Linked DNA regions of Homo sapiens: region 1 is linked to region 2. The links come from fine-mapping of genetic effects on gene expression. A gene starts in region 2. The other region holds a variant in brackets. All regions are shown on one strand. Distances are between the middles of the regions.

The links. PIP is the estimated chance that this variant, and not a neighbour inherited with it, causes the effect.
Region 1: its variant is fine-mapped to the expression of MAGEF1 in whole blood (INTERVAL, PIP 0.96).

What each region holds. Positions count from the first base shown.
Region 1 is chr3:184,632,504-184,640,832 of GRCh38, forward strand. No RefSeq gene overlaps it. Among named protein-coding and RNA genes, the nearest start is that of EPHB3, 75 kb to the left of the region's middle. The variant C/T (reference allele first, on the strand shown) is at 4,717.
Region 2 is chr3:184,708,771-184,717,037 of GRCh38, forward strand. MAGEF1 (MAGE family member F1) reads right to left here and starts at 3,294. Exons shown (of 1, transcript NM_022149.5): 1 at 1,594-3,294. The coding sequence starts at 3,051. The coding sequence ends at 2,128. It overlaps LOC107986163 (a long non-coding RNA gene), which reads left to right and starts at 3,473. Exons shown (of 5, transcript NR_160768.1): 1 at 3,473-3,648; 2 at 6,261-7,404. RefSeq lists an enhancer at 2,494-2,553.

The DNA.
Region 1 (8,329 bases), 76 kb before region 2:
ATGTGCCCATTTATCTACACACACTCACACACAGACACACATTCATTCACAAATGCTCATAAGCACACACACTCAGAAATAAACTGTACACACATGTACAAAGAGAGACATACCCTAACACACTCTCACACAGACACACAGTTAACACGAATACAAGACACACCCTTATATGCAGCACACACTTGTTCACTGAGTCCACACCCTCAGACACACCCACGTGCACACACACCTTCCCTCCCCACTTGCCCTTCAGACAGAAGAAGGCAGCATTCCGGCGCTCTCTGCCGCCACCTGACTGCCCTGCACAGAGGCCTCCCAGCCCCAGCAGAGCAAGATCTGCTGCCAGGCCGCCCCTGCTGCCCCCATCTCGGTCACTCATAAATGCCCTGAGGATGCCCACATGCTCAGACCCAGCCTTGCCCACCTGCTCCTGCCTGCGGCCTTTTCTTCCACATATCAACAGCCTCTCTCACAAGGGCCTTCACACAGCCTCTGACACACACACACTCAAACACATGGAACATGCTCTCCCTCCTTTGCCATCTCACTGTCACATGGGTCGGTCACTCTGTCTCCAGCCTCTCCCAGTCACATCCATGCGATTTGCCTGCCAGCTTGTCCCCTACAACTGCACCCCCAGCTTTGGTCTTTGTCTCATGCACAGATACACCCAGCCCTGTATCTGTCTGTCTGTCTCCCTCACGCAGGAACAACTTGAGCCATGGCAAGTGGGAGAGGGCGTCAGGCCTGATGGAAGCTGTTATTCTTAGCCCTGTCACTGAACACTTGCACCCCTCCCCAGCTCAGCCCCTGCCCTGCCTGTCACCCTCCCCTCGGGCAGAGCCGAACCTGAGGCCAGTCTAATCCCCCATCTGTGGAGAGGGAGGGGAGGCAGCAGGGGATTGCTGCCCAGCATTGAAAAGGAGCAGAAAATGGGATTTATTTTTGCTGCCCCTCATCCCCCCCTTCCCCGACTCTGCCCCCAGCTGCTCAGAGAGCAGTTGTGTGAGGAACGAGTGGGGGTGGAAGGAGGGAATTTGCATTTGAAAATGCTTGTTGGTTGGCCTGAAACACTGGGTGCCATTGCTGATCCGGTTCTCTGTGTGCACACGTGTGTGCATATGTGTGTGTGTGTGTGTGTGTGTAGGGTGTGGGAAGGTGGGGCTGTGGGTGAGAAGACACTGGGGAAGTGGACTCAGGGCTTTCTGGAGTGACTGTGTACCCCTTTCTTGCTTTGGAGCTGGAACCAGCCATAATAGATCAGACCCAAGCTCAGCTTCTTTTTTTTTTTGAGACAGAGTCTTGCTCTGTCGCCCAGGCTGGAGTGCAGCGGCGCCATCTCGGCTCACTGCAAGCTCCGCCTCCTGGGTTCAAGCAATTCTCTGGTCTCAGCCTCCTGAGTAGCTGGGATTACAGGCTCCCGCCACCACCCCTGGCTAATTTTTGTATTTTTAGTAGAGACGGGTTTTCACCATGTTGGCCAGACTGGTCTCAAACTCCTGACCTCAGGTGATCCGCCCGCCTCGGCCTCCCAAAGTGCTGGGATTACAGGTGTGAGCCACCTCGCCCGGCCCCAAGCTCAGCCTCTGTTTGGCCTCAGGAACCACCAACTCCTAGACCTCTCTCTGCCACCCGGGCCACTTGTAGGCCTCCATATCTTATGTCCAGCTGCCCTGAGTGGAAAGGAGGGAGTTCCACCCCAGGAAGTCCCGTGGACATCTCAACCCCAAGGTGCTTGGTCTTTTTCTCCAAACCTCTCCTTCTCCCTGGTGTCCCGAAGTCGGAAGCTTCAGACAACCCCCACTTCTTCCTTGCCCCACCCTTTCTGGTCTGCCTCAGAAGGTGCTCTGAAGGTGTCCTCTTGTCCCCACTCCCATGAACCCAGCCCCAGCAGGCCCCTCTTCGGCTCTTGCCAGGACTATTGCAGGAGCTGCTAGCTGCTCTTCCCACCCTCAGTCTCCCTTCCTGCCCATCCCTTCTCCAGACAGCTGCCAGTAACTTATTAAAAAGCCAAAATAAATAAAAGCGTATAGTGTCACTCTCCTTCTCAAAACGCTCCCCTGGCAGCTGCAGATAGAGTCTAGAGCCCTGGGGTGCCGCACCAGGGCCCCCGTTCTGTCCCATGTCCCTCCCACCACTCTCTCTGAGCCCTTCCCTTCCTCTCTGCTGGCTCTTTAGCCTGAAATAGCTTTTCCCTCTCCTTCACCTTGAGTGGATTTGGAATCCAATTTAGATATCATCTTCACTTCTGAAAACTTCTGCCTCCCCACACATACCTCCATGAGAATCGTTTTTAATCTTTTTACTCTCAAGGGTGTGTACAAACTTTAATTCCAGCCCTGAAACCACTACCCTTCAGCTCAGGGTCCCTTAATGAGTCCATCCTCGACGCCTGTGCCAGGCAGGGTCCTGTCATGCGTATGTCCTCTCTGGCCATCTCCATTTGACACAGTCCTGTCCAGCTTGAATCTAACCTCCCTGATGTTGACTCGTGTCTCCCTTCCTTTGGGATTTTCAGTCTGTGGCCACACTGGGCCCTGACTCTTTTGCCCTGTGCTGTCCACATTGTTTTCTACGTGCGGGTGTGGGGCCACCCCAGCTGGCCTGGGAGCTCCTGAGGGTGTCAGGGTGGAGTTCCTGCAGCCATGCCCCTGTGGAGCTCTGAGTGGTACTGGGCTCACAGCCAGGACTCAGCGACTTTGGGGACTGGGGCTGCAGGGCATTGAATTTAAGTCGGGAAGAGGGAGGAGGAGGGGACGGGAAGAAAGGAGCCCTTAGCAGGCGCTGAGTGAAGGCAGGTTGTAGGCCCCTGGGACTCCACTCTCAGGGCAGGACTGGGGGCCACAAGGCCTGCTCTCGCCTGGCAGCTGTGAGGAAACCTGCTCCCAGAGGTGATGCCAGAGGTGCGGGCCACCGGGGCAAGTGGTCTGGCGGCTGGCCAGGATCTGACTCTGACACTGGCCTGCTGAGTGCCCAGAAGAAAGAGGCTCAGAGGGAGAGCCAGAGCATGAGAGACATGGCAGGGACGCTGAGTGAGAGGGACAGAGAGAGACACGGCAACAGGGACAGAGACAGAGAAGAGGAGAGGGGGGCACAGAGACACATACGCTGAAAGAGAGACAGACAGATTCAGAGACAGACTGAGAGACAGAGTGACTTAGAGACACGCACAAAGAAACAGACTGATGGAAAGAAAGACAGGGTCCGAGAGAGACACACAGACCAGAAGACAAAAAGGAAGGCAGACAGAGAGGACAGAAAGGAGTGAGGCAGCGTGGGGAGAGAGAGGCAGGGACAGAAACACAGACACAGACAGACATGAGGGCACAGGGCAGCCCGAGAGAAGCCCATAAACACAGGCACGCACATGCGTGGAGGAGGCACGAAGCCACCTAAAGGTGGAGGGAGGGTGTCGGGGAGGAGAAGGCACAGGCCTGACGCTCAGGGCCTGGGGTTGGGTGGCGGGAGGCTGGGCCTGTCGGCTCCTCTCCTTGACGTGAGTCAGGGGTGGTGGGCAGGCTGATGGGGCAGGCCTGAAGTAGGGCTGCGTGGAAGGGCTCTGCGGGGTCAGGGGAAAGCCTGGGTCCAGCTGTGAACCCTCCAGGATCCAGGGCTGCCCCAACAGGAGCCCCAGGAGAGGGAGCTGGAACCAGAGAACAGCACGTGGCAAGAGGCCCCAGTTAAGCTTTGCAGCAGGATGGCCCAGTGGCTACTGGGTTCAGAACAGCTTCTTGGGAGCTGGGTGTCGTGGCACATGCCTGTAGTCCCAGCTGCTCAGGAGGCTGATCGCTTGAGCCCGGGAATTCACGACTAGCTTGGATAACATAGTGAGACCCTGTTCCTTAAAACAAAAAACAAACAAACAAAAAAACACAAAAAAAAACAGCTTCCTGGACATGGAACCTCTCACCTCAGCAAGGAGAGGAGCTGTGGAGGGAGCACAGGGCTGAGACCCTCAGAGTTCCTCCATGGGAACAGCGCACCTGCATCTGTGTCTAAGCCTCAGAGAGACTCCCCAGGCCCTTGGCAGTCCATTCCATTGTTCCACCGTCCAATACAGAGAGCCCACTGGAAGTCCTCCCTGCTGTCTCATTCTGATACCTCTTATTGCAAGTGCAGCCCACTCAACTCTTTAGGAGGTTAAAAAAAAAAAAGCAACAAAAACCCCTCCACCGAAATCTGAAATGCCACACAGTGCTCAGACAAAGACCCCTTTCTGCACAGCTTTACTCCCTCCTACACCTCTCTCCCCCTCCCCACCCCGCTTCCTTACTGCAGGCTAAATTGGCAGTGGGGAGGTTTTGAGTCAACAAATGCAGTGGGTTGGGGAAGGGAGCCCTGAAGGGGATTCCTGTCTGGGAAACATTTGCTGACAGCAGTTACTATGACAAGGAAGGCCTGCAGGAGAACCCAGCAGCCCCTGCCTCCTGCCTACTGCCCCTCCCAATTCTAGCTCTCCTTGCCCATCCCCCCTCCCAACCAGTTCATTCACTGACTCATCCATTCCATCATTTACTCAACTCAACAATCTTTAGACATTTACCATGCCTCCAGCACCCGCTTGGCATTTCATGTTTATTCTTCCACTCTGTCCTCACCACAACCCACAAAGTTATCTGTTGTTTTCCCTTTTGACAAAGTAGAAAGCTGAAACCCAGTATACTGAATTGACTTGCCCAGAGTGGTGCAGATGACAGGAGGCAGAGCTGGGATTTG[C/T]ACCCAGGACTCTCTGCTTTCCAGATCAGTGTGGGGGTTTCTGAACTGCGTCAGGAAAGCAGGTGCCAGGTGATGAGTACTGTACAGGCTGAGACTTCGCCATCTTTGGCTCTGCATCACTAAAACTGTGCCCAGCACCCACACACAGTAGGCACTCAGTACACACTTGTGCCATACATTCAGCACACATGAACTCAGTATACACATGTGCTTTTTGATGGGAGGGCAAGAGTCAGCAAAAGTGGGACTCCTGAGAAGAGAGGGCCTTCCTGTTTGGAAGCAGCTGTACCTCGGTTCTGCAATCCAGGCACTCAAGGGCATTGATAAAGTGCCTACTGTGTGCCGGGCACTGTGTTAGGACCTCTGAATACAAAGATTTAAAACACAGATTTGTAGTTTGCCCTAAAGGAGGTCTTTGTTTAGTGGAGGAGGCAGACATATAAACAGATGGAGTTAGCAGTGCTACAGAAATAAGTACCAAGTGCCGTGGGGTTGCAGGTGGAGCAAGGACCTAAATCTGAAAAGCAAAACAAGAAAGCCTTTATAAGACAATGTAAAAAAAATCTCCGTGACCTCAGGGTAGGGAAAGATTTCTTAAACAACACACAAAAATAACACTAACCATAAAGAAAAAGATTGACAAATGTGGGTGCATTAAAATGAAGAAGCTGTGTTCTTCAGAAGACAACATGAAGAGAGTAAAAGGGAAGCCACAGAGCAGGAAAAGGTTTTGCAACACATGCAACTGACAAAGGGCTCAGCTCCAGAATGTGTAAAGAACTCCCACAAATGAGTATGAAGATTGGCAACTCAATGGAAAAACTGGATCAAATGCATAAATATGGAAAAATCCAAATGGCTATAAATATATGAGGTGTGTGACCTTATCAGGAATCAAAGAAATGCAAATTAAAATCCCAAGAAGATTCTACTACATACCCTCCAGATTAGCAAAAATGTAAAAGTCTGATAAAACGAAGGGCTGGTGAAGATCTGGACCAGGAGTTCTCAAATATCTCTTCAGAAGCAGCCGGTCAGCATCTAAGCAGTCAATTCAGACATGTGTACTCCAGAGGTGAATCGTGTACAAGAATGTTCGTGGCAGGCATTATTCATGAAGGCCCCAGACTGGAACCAGTGAATATCCAACAGCTGTAGATTGGATAAACTGAGTACAGAGAAACAGAATGAAGAGCACAGTTAATTCTGCCTGAGGGGCTGGGGTGTCTGGGAAGGTGGATCTTGGAGGAAGAATAGTTTCCCAGTCAAGGAAGCGGGAGAGAGGTTATCCCATCCAGAGGGTTCAGCAGATGGATGATCATGGGGTTAAGAGCAGTTCTAGCTTGTCCAGGAGGCAGCTGGATTAGGGGCTGGCAGGGAGAGAGGCAGGGAAGGTGAGCAGAGAGAGGTTGGATGTGTTGGAATGTGAAGGCCTCTGTGGGCCATCGAAGGAAATTTGGCTTAAATACAAAAGTGAGAGATAGTCAGAAGCAAGGAGCAACTAGAGGTTATTGCAAAAGATGATGCAGCAGGAAAGAAACATAGCAGTGTGGCGGAAGAGAGAGGGTGCATTTGGGAACCATGTCTGAGACAGAATACATAGGATGTTGTGTGGGGTGTTGGGAGGGGTCAGGACGGAGCTGAGGCAACTCCCAGGTCTCTGGCTGGCCGGCTGGGTGGAAGGTGATGCTCTAACTCAACATCCAGAGACTGCGGAGGTGGAGGTTTGAGGCAAGAGCTAAGAGGACTAGTTGGGGACATGCTGCTTTGGTGGTGCCTAGGGATACACAGGTGAACATCCAAGTTCACCAGGATGTGGAGCTTGGACATGAGCCACAGATATCAGAATTACTAGAGCAAGAAGCCATGGGTTTAGATGAGAATATCAGGGGTGCAGGAGCAGGGCAAGACAAGAATTGGAGCTCTAGGAACCACAACATAGAGGCAGTGGACAGAGGAGAAGCAGGGGAGAGAGAGGGAAGGGATGATGGAAAATAAGAGAAGGTCCAGAAGAGAGGGTGGTGCTGCAGCAGCTAAGGGAGGAGCAAGTTGCACCAGGGCTGGGTGGTCTGTGAGTGAAAACTAGGTCTTGGGAAGAGGTGGGGTTGGGTCTGTGGTTAGCAAAGAAGAGGAGGAGAGGGTAGTTGAGGGAGTTCTGAGAATCTCTATTTTCTCTGTCAATTACACATGACGGAGGGGACAGGCCGGAAGCCTGAAAGGGTGGTAAGTTTCAGAACAGGAGCTGATCACCAGCAGCCCAGGAGCTGAAGGGCCAGGCTGAAGTCAGGGACCATAAATCTGGAGTGGCACTAGTTTGCACGGTTGAGTGGTTTTCCTATGCCTTCTAGTAGCCTGGGAATTGCAATGGACAAAGCAGATGACTGGAGTCCTCCAGGGCTGGGAAAGGCAGGGTGAGGGGGTGTGGGAATCAAGGGTGTCGGGAAAATGAATGATGTGGCCAATCACAGGCAGGTCAAGAGAGGAGAAAGTAGAGCCAGGAAGGAGCAGATGCGCTGGCGGAAGGCCTTGTCCAAAGCCGGCACTGCAGCACCGGTGCTCGAACGAGTGAGACAGAACGGGAGAATTGGAGAATCTCTGCGAGTGGAGACCAGGTTTTATGGAAAGGAAGGAAAAAGTTGTGGCCCAAGATGGGGGTGCTGGAGTTTAAGATTTCACAGGAGACGTTTCAGGTGATATGTGGGTGGCAGAAATGGAGAGAAGGTCGTTGGGGAAGGGGAGATAGGAGAGCCAAGGGTGAGGGTGTTGGGAAGTCCATGTGGACATTCAGGTCCCCCAGACTGACAGCAGGAGGTGGGAGACAGAAGAAGACCCTGAGCCAGGCGCCCAAGTCCTCAAAAGACGTTGAGTGACCTCTGGGTGGATGGGTGATCCCAGCCAGGTTGGGTGAGGGGTGTGTGGCTGGATGGTGGGAACCTGGAGGTCTGGTTTTGAGTGGGAGAGGAAGAGTCATGGACTGGGTGGCAGAGAGAGGTGGAAGAATGCTGACTGTCCGGCCTGGCCAGGTGCCACCTCCAGCAAGCTCGTCTGATCACTCTCTTCTTGACCTTCATTGTTCTTTGAGTCTGAAAGACTCCATTTAACCCTTGAGTATCCACAGCCCCAATATTTGCTTCTCTCCTCCAGAGATCACTGGGCAGAATTCCCATGGGTGGATTGTGGCTTCTGTGTATTGTGGCCCCAGTGTATTCTGAGAAATGGGCCATGGACACAGGACAAAGAGGCCTTGACCGCAGCTTGGGTTAGTGAAAGTGTGGGCTGCTCTGGGCCAAGCCACACCATCTACTTTGGGCCCAGCAGGCTGGGCTCCTCCACCCCTACCCCATCTCCCTGGGACATGTGGAGCTTTTCTACCCTTCATTTTGCACATGGAAAATTAAGCCAATAAAAGCCTCAAGAATATTAAGGCATGGGCTGAGGCCTGATGGCATCTGGAACCCCGTCTGCAATACCTGATTCCCTTCACCTGCTATCAAAATCTTGCTCAGCCTTCAAGGCCCAATCAAGGGAGCCTCACCTTCTTTCTGATCTTCCCTTCTCCACGTCAATTACTTTGCTGGCTAGATTCTTGGTCCTTCCATTTGGCATTTGTTTT
Region 2 (8,267 bases):
CCCAGGCTGGAGTGCAGTGGCACGATCTCGGCTCACTGCAACCTCCACCTCCTGGGTTCAAGCGATTCTCCTGCCTCAGCCTCCTGAGTAGCTGGGATTACAAGCGTGCGCCACCGTGCCCAGCTAATTTTTGTATTTTTAATAGAGACAGGGTTTCACTATGCTGGCCAGGCTGGTCTCGAACTCCTGACCTTGTGATCTGCACACCTCAGCCTTCCAAAGTGCTGGGATTACAGGTGTGAGCCACCGCGCCCAGCCAAGTCTTCTCATTTTAATAGTTCTGGTACCCATCAAAGTTGTTAGCACAGAGTGGACACTCAATATTTATGTTTAATGAACCATAAACTACCCAGAAGTTGTATTTTTAACCGTTAGCAACTTTTTTGTCCCTAAGCTGGTAGCTTTTGTCCCAATCTGATTTGTTGGATCCCTACGTCCCAAAGTAGTTTGTATTCCATGCCAACCTTAACATCCTCAGAGATGTTACTTGGACACAACTGGAAGAAAAAATTGATAAGAGAAAAGAAAGCAGCTCTTCTGTTTATGGCAGTTGCAGGGGAAGTTTCACCATCCGCCCACCCTGCCCCCGACCCTCACCCACTCTCTGGTTTGGGAATCACTTCTCTAAATTCCCTATTATTCTAAGTACCCTTTCTACAGGATTTACCCTCACGCAGAAGGTGGTGGGCATTGAAGAAGCCAGAGCTCCTTACAGATGACTCTCCACGGATAACATGAAGGGGAGGGATACCTCACAAGTCTCCTGTAAATGGGAGGTGGCAGGTGGAAAGCAGCAGGCAGAAACATGGAAGGGGGAACTGGGCTTCCTGGTGCCAGAGGAGAAATCTTGAAGTGGAACTTCTTGGTAGTAGTAGATTTAGGTACCCTTCATCCACACTACATAATATTCCAGAGGTGTTACATTATTTGATCTCTGAGGGCTTTGGTAGAGGAGGGAACCCTGTAGAGGTTGAAAAGGAGACAGAAAGGGCCAAAAAGTTGACAGTCAACATCTTTGTGCACTGTTAACAATCTGGTCTGGAAAGACAGCACTGGCAAAGGTAGAGTATTTCCCAGATCTGCCATGTATCAAGTCTGCTCACATTACTGAGGAGTAGCTGTGATCTGAAATCATTATTTTTATTTCTTATTTTTTTCTGAGACGGGGTCTTGCTCTGTCTCCCAAGCTGGAGTGCAGTGGTATGATCTCGGCTCACTGCAACCTCCGTCTCCTAGATTCAAGAGATTCTTGTGCCTTGGCCTCCCAAGTAGCTGGGATTACAGGTGTGTGCCACCACGCCTGGTTAATTTTTGTAATTTTAGTAGAAACAGGGTTTCACCATGTTGGCCAGGCTGGTCTTGAACTCCTGACTCCGGTGATCAGTCCGCCTCGGCCTCCCAAAGTGCTGGGATTACAGCAAACCTCACTCAATCATCCCAGCTGGGTTAAGTATCCCTTTGTAGACTTCAACTCATTGCACTGCTAATTTCTTGTTTATTTACTTACTCTTCAATTCTGAAAAAAAGTAGGACCTTTATCTTGTTTAGTATTCTATCCCCAAGTGCCCACACAGTGCATCACAGAAAACAAGATGCTCCACAAATGTTTAATTTATTAAGTGTGCCAGGGTATACTGCTAACTCATTGCATTTTAATTTTTCTCTAGATACTCAAATAGCTAAGCAAATGAAGGTACATGCCAGTCTTTCTTCTTTTATACACAACAGACAAAAGTGTTGGGGGGCTAGACACCAACCAGCTATTTTTTTCCCCTGGAACCAGATCATCATACTGCTGAGTTCCTTCAAACCATCAAAGTACAGCCTTCCTTCCAATGTTGCATAATCTGTTCAAAATCACAGTATAAATACAAAGTTCTTCCATCCATTTTACAAAACCAGCAAAACTCTACAATAAAATCCTACAGGAAAAAGTAGACCAATCTCATTTACAAACAGCATTTTAACAGTAATTATTAAATGTTACAAAACATAAGATACAAAATCTAAATCCTTAAAGTCACACGATTTCTACAGAAATAAGACCCTCGCCCCACCCATATTACTTATGACTCAGGACAGTAGTTCGTCCTCACGGGGACCCACTGGCCAACTTTTCACCAACCCTCACCAGAGGTGGATGCCGGCCCTAGCACTGGCCCTGGCCCTCATACTGGCTTCAGCTCTGGCCTTGGCTCTGGCCCTGTCGGCCTCGTCTGCTAGGGCCTCACGGTACTGCACTGGCCAGTGCTGCGGTTCCTTCTTATGCAGTTTGGCCACGAACCCCAGGACTTCCATCTTGCTGATTTCCAGGTTGCTTCGGGGACCCCAAGAGAATTCATATTCTGGTGGATTGGTGTGAGGCACCCGCCTGTAACTGAGATATCGCTGCTGCACAAAATCTTCCATAATAAGCCTCTTCGGATACCCAAAGAGGAAATGATACTTTGAGGGTTGCACCCCCAACCGACGCAGCATCTCCCAGACCTGGGCCTCCCTGGCGCTATTACCTCTCATATAGATAAGGCCCAGGATCATCATTAACAGACCCAATCTGGGGCCATCTCCTCCCAGATCCTCCTCCTCCTCCTCCTCCAGAGGTTTTAGTTTGTTGATCAGGATGTAAGTGTGGTGCTTGCGGTCAAACTGTTTCAGCTCAAAACCAAAGACATACCGCAGATGCTCTGCGGCCCTTGCGATGATGTCCGGGAACAGAATCTTCAAGTCTCCAATAACGTATTTCACCATCTCCGAGCGTGTGATGGGACTCTTCTTCTTGTCTTTCACCAGGAGGAACTGCACCAACTCCGCCACCGTCCGATTCAGCCGGCGGTAGGCCCTGCGCCTTGCCAAGGCTTTGGCCGCCAAGGCCCTCGCGCCTTTCCGGGTGAGGGCGGGCTCCGCAGCCCCCTCCTCCCTCCCGGCGCCAAGCTCCTCCTTGGGGCGCTCCTGCGAGGCGGTCGGGGCCCGGGTCTCACCATCATGGCCGCCATCCTTCTCCCCCTCGGCCTGCGGGACCGGGAGCCCCCTGCTCTCTGGTGTCTGCAACATGTTTTCGGGCAGGCAGGTGCAGAGCGCGTACACGGGCCGAGGGGTGTGGGAGCCGCCGCGCAAGCCCCGGGGGAGGGGTTGGACAGCGGCAGTGACGGCGGGAGTACAAGGAGCAATGGCAGCGGGAGCTTTGTGGCTGCTGGGCCGCACCGCACGGGAGTCAAACCTGCGGCCGCAACGCCGCCAGCAGCCGGAACCTGCGGCGCGCAGCCTCAGTCCGCGCCCGCGCGAGGGGCCACTTCCGGCCACCTCAGCCAGGACGGCGACCCTAGTGCCGCGCGCAGCCCCTCCTTTTCCGGTCCCTTCTGGGTTGGGGGTGTGCCCAGGCTGCTATAAGTGGAAATGCCCTGGAGGGTGGGGACGGGGGTGCGCCCTGTGACGGATTTTAGGCTTGAAAAGTCGGGGGCGGGGGAATGTAACCAGGACTCTCCCATCCAAGGCATGCAGACTGGGGAATGTTTCGGTGTACAAGAGATGAAATAGGGATGGAGTGCCCCCCACGTTCTTTCTGCAAGTGCCTATTTGTGAGTGTGTGTATCTGGGATTTTCAGTGCTTTACCGGGGCTCTTGTGCAGAGTGCACGGTGAAGGCTGCGAGGTAAGACTGTGCGAACCAATTAGTAAAGGATGCTAGGGAGACTGAAATTTATTCTGGACGTAAAGAGAAAATACTGCAGCGGGATTTAAGCAAGTGAGTGTCCAGACCAGATCTGTGTCTTCGGTTCTGGCGGTATTGTGGAAGATAGATTGGAGTTCGGCCGGCTAAAAGCTAGAATCCAGTTTGGAGGATTATTATAGTGCAAACTAGGAACTGGGACCCGGCCTATTTACTGGGTTGTATCCTCGGTGCCTAGAGCAGTGCCTGACACGGAGAGGAACTCAATAAATATTCAATGGATCATTATGATGAGGGAGTAAGGACAGCAGATTCCATGGGGATAAGAGGAAAATACTGAGAAGTACAGCAGGAATAGGGACTGGTTGGAAGAAAGGGGAAGTTTGTTCTTTTTTTTTTTTTTTTTTGCGCAAGTCAAATTTGACTACTCCCATGTATTTCTTTTCTTTTTCTCTTTTTACACACTCTGAGCTTTCTTCTGCTTCTTGCTCCTTCCTTCCTTCTTTCCTTCCCTCCTTCCTTCCTTCCTCCCTCCCTTCCCTCCTTCCCTTCCTGCCTTCCTTCCTTCCTTCTTTCCTTCCTTCCTTCCTTCCTTCTTTCCTTCCTTCCTTCCTTCCTTCTTCCCTCCCTCCCTCCCTTCCTTCCCTGTCAGAAATGCCCTCTCTATCACCTCCATTTCTCCAAATCCTGTCCACTATTCAGGGCCCAGTTTAAACATCACCTTCCCAAGCCTTCCTTAGTCACCACGCATAGAAGTTATTTACTGTCATCTCTGAATCACCTTAGCAATTGTTAACATCCACATATATAGGCTTTATTAGGTGCCAGGCTCCGTTCTAATCACTTTTCAAATATTAATTCATCAGATTCTCACTAATGTAGGTACTAATACCATCATCCCCATTTTATAGATGATTGTATCTTTTCTGTGACACAGTTTGCTACTTACTAGCTATGTAATCTTGGGCAAGTTACCTAAACTTCTGCCCTTCTGTTACCTTATCAGTAAAATGAGTATAATAGTAGTAACAGCATTGTGGAGATTATGTGAAGTAATGCACATAAGCATTTAACACAGTGCTTGGCACATATTGATATTCAATACATGTTAGCTGTTAATTAATGCATATTTTTATATGCAATATACAATATTAGAATTGCAAGATGAACTGTCCTGGAATGCCTAGCACTCTGTGGAGATGCGGAGGAGGTGTCCTGGGACATAGCACTGAACCGGGTCAGTACTCACCCATTCTGTGACCTTGTACAGGATGCTCAAACACCCTGGGCCACTTTTTTCTGATACTGTAGCCCTGCTAGGTAAGTGGTATTAGCCCCATTTTCCAGGTGAGGTTACACACAAGGAGGTTAAGTAACTTGCCCAACATCACACAGCTGGGATGTGAACCCATATAGTATGACTCCAGAGACTGTGCTCTTAACCACTACATTCATAGATGTTAATTATTATTATTATCATTTACTATATTTTGTATTATAATTTGTTGTGCTTATCTTATTACCCTCCCCAAACCAAACATCCTAAAAGCTAGGGCTATGTTTTTAACTCTTTTGAAGAGCTTCTCTTAGTCAATACTCGATATATAATTGCCAATGAATAAATGACAGAAGGCTTTACTTTTTTCCCTAGGAAATAACAGTTACTTATTTTAAGTAAATATCTGATAGACTTTTCTAAATCTAAATATGAAATCTTCCTTTTAAAAACTTTTGAAAATTTATACCCACTTGTATCATATGACTTACAAACCTGGAAGTATGTGAATGAAGCAGGAGAGGATGTTTATTATAGCCTAGCTTGAGGCTATTATTAGTTTTCATTGTGCCAAACATTCTATGTACAATATAATTTTGTCCTCACAAATCCCTATTAAGAAGGTATTATTATCCACATTTACAAATGGGAAAACAGTCACAGAGAGGTTAAATCACCTGCCCTGAACCACCCATCTGTTAAGTGCTAGACAAGAAATGAAAACCCAGATCTGTAAACTCTGAAGCAAGACTGCCTGGTTATCTGTTTTTCCTGAAGGTAGAGAGAGCCACCCATACCTAAAAGGACAGTGCTAGAGATAAAATAGTCCACTTACATATTTTCCTCACTACAAGGATTGCCAGGGAGATATGCAGGAGATACATGCACGGAAAGGAGCATGCAGAAGATATATTAAATGAAAAGAATTTTGAGGGACAAATCTGTGGTAATAGGGCTGGATTTTAAGAACTGAATAAATGACGATACTACTCATAAGAAGGAACAAACTACTGACACAATGTGAATGAGTCTGGCAGATATGTTGAGTGACAGATGAAAGATACAAAAGATTATACGTATAATATGATTCCATTTATCTGATGTTCGAGGCAGGATAAGCTAATCTATGGTGATAGAAATTAGGACAGTGGAGGCCTGGGGTGGTGTTGACTGGAAAGGGGTATCCAGGAACTTTCAGTGGTGATGGCAACGTTCTGTGTCTTGATTTGGATGTAGGTATACATTTGTCAAAACTTGTGAAACTGTACGCTTAATAGCTATGCATTTCTTTTCTTTTCTTTTCTTTTCTTTGCGACAGGGTCTCACTCTGTTACCCAGGCTGGAGTGGTGCAATGGCACAATCTCAGCTCACTGCAACCCCTGCCACTGCAACCCTTGCCTCCAGGTTCAAGTGCTTCTCTTGCCTCAGCCTTCCAAGTAGCTGGGATTACAGGCACCTGCCACCACACCTGGCTGATTTTTGTATTTTTAACAGAGACGGGGTTTCACCATGTTGGCCAAGCTGGTCTCAAACTCCTGACCTCAAGTGATCTGCCTGCCTCAGCCTCCCAAAATGCTGGGATTACAGGTGTAAGCCACCATGCCCAGCCAGGTATGCATTTCATAGTGTATGAATCATACCTCAAAATTTATAAAAATAAAAAAGGATTTTAAAAAATGAACAGCCCTTTAGGTATGGGAGGAGGCGAGGAGTAAGAAAGGTGAATGGACTCTGCATTACCACTTGCCGATCGCTAGATGTTACCATGTTACAGTGGAAGGAATGCAAACAATAATTTTTCCCATTTTTTTTTTTGTTATGTCCACCATGTAACCGGACACACAGAATTTTTTTTTTTTTTTTTTTTTTTTTTTGAGACGAAGTCTCACTCTGTCGCCCAGGCTGGAGTGCAGTGGCGCATCTCGGCTCACTGCAAGCTCCGTCTCCCACGTTCACGCCATTCTCCTGCCTCAGCCTCCCGAGTAGCTGGGACTACAGGCGTCTGCCACCATGCAGCTAATTTTTTGTATTTTTTTTTTTAGTAGAGATGGGGTTTCACCGTGTTAGCCAGGATGGTCACGATCTCCTGACCTCGTGATCCGCCTGCCTCGGCCTCCCAAAGTGCTGGGATTACCGGCATGAGCCACCATTTCCGGCAACAGGCAGACTTTTAACACATTCCTTACCTAAACTTTTAAAAGGGACAAAAGATATATGCCTTTGGTTTGGGAGATGACGAAACATATGCTTTAATGACTATTGGGTTGGAATCTTCTTGAGAGAGGATCCTTCTTAGCCTAGACTAGAGTCTTCAAAAGCCCACAGTGCTTCGTAAAGTTTCATACGTGGAAGAGAGAAGGATGTTCCACTGGAAAAGCAGAATTGCAGCTGAGCTGTCCTGAAATGCCCAGCACTCTGTGGAGACGCGGAGGAGGTTTCCTGGGACAAAGTGCTGAACCAGGTCAGTACTCGCCCATTCTGTGACCTTGCACAGGGTGCTGAACCTCTCTGAGCCACCTTTTCCTCATCTTTAGGCCCCAACAACCCTTGCTTTGCCCATCCTTACAGAGTTATTTTGAAGTTCAATCAAGATTATACATGTAAATATGCGTTTAAAGTGCTCCACCATTAAGAAATAAATATAAAATGTTACAGACCCTTTTCTAAAAGAGATATGGTGGAAAAATCCCAGTAATGAGGGTGACTGGCCTCTTAGACAGACATTTCGGAATAGCTTACACATTCCTCATTGAAAAAACTGTCTGGCCAAAAAAGATTAAATAAAGAAATGTCAAGTACTGACACTCCATTTGAGGCCAGTGAATACTTTGGTGCAGAGCCAGGGTTATCTTGTTGGATTCCTTCTAAACTTGGCAATAGAGTCCTCCAAACTCTTGAATGCCTTCTTCACACAGGTGCTCAGTAACATGTCACCCCAGATCTGATGGTCTCCAGGCTGCGTGGGTGCTTGTGTCTTCCCTATTTCTCCTGACAGTCTTGACAGCCGTGCAGCTGATCTGGCTCCAAACAGGGATCAGAGGAAGAGCTCTGTCCCTATCCCTAGGCCGGGACAAATTGAAGCTGGTTTTGTCAGAGCAGAATGGGCAGAGTGTGAGGCTTTGGGTCCCGTCTATGGGGCTGGGATTGAGGCAGGATGGCCAGGCGAATGATTCGATCTGACTTGGGTAATGAAAATTGTTTGTTACTTTTTGAAGAGTAATTGTGTAAGCAACAGTACTTCTGTGTTTGGCTGCCAGTGACTCACCAGTGTCTGTAATATAACACCAAACCCAGAGGAGGAGCAGACCCTGGCCAGCGGGGGAG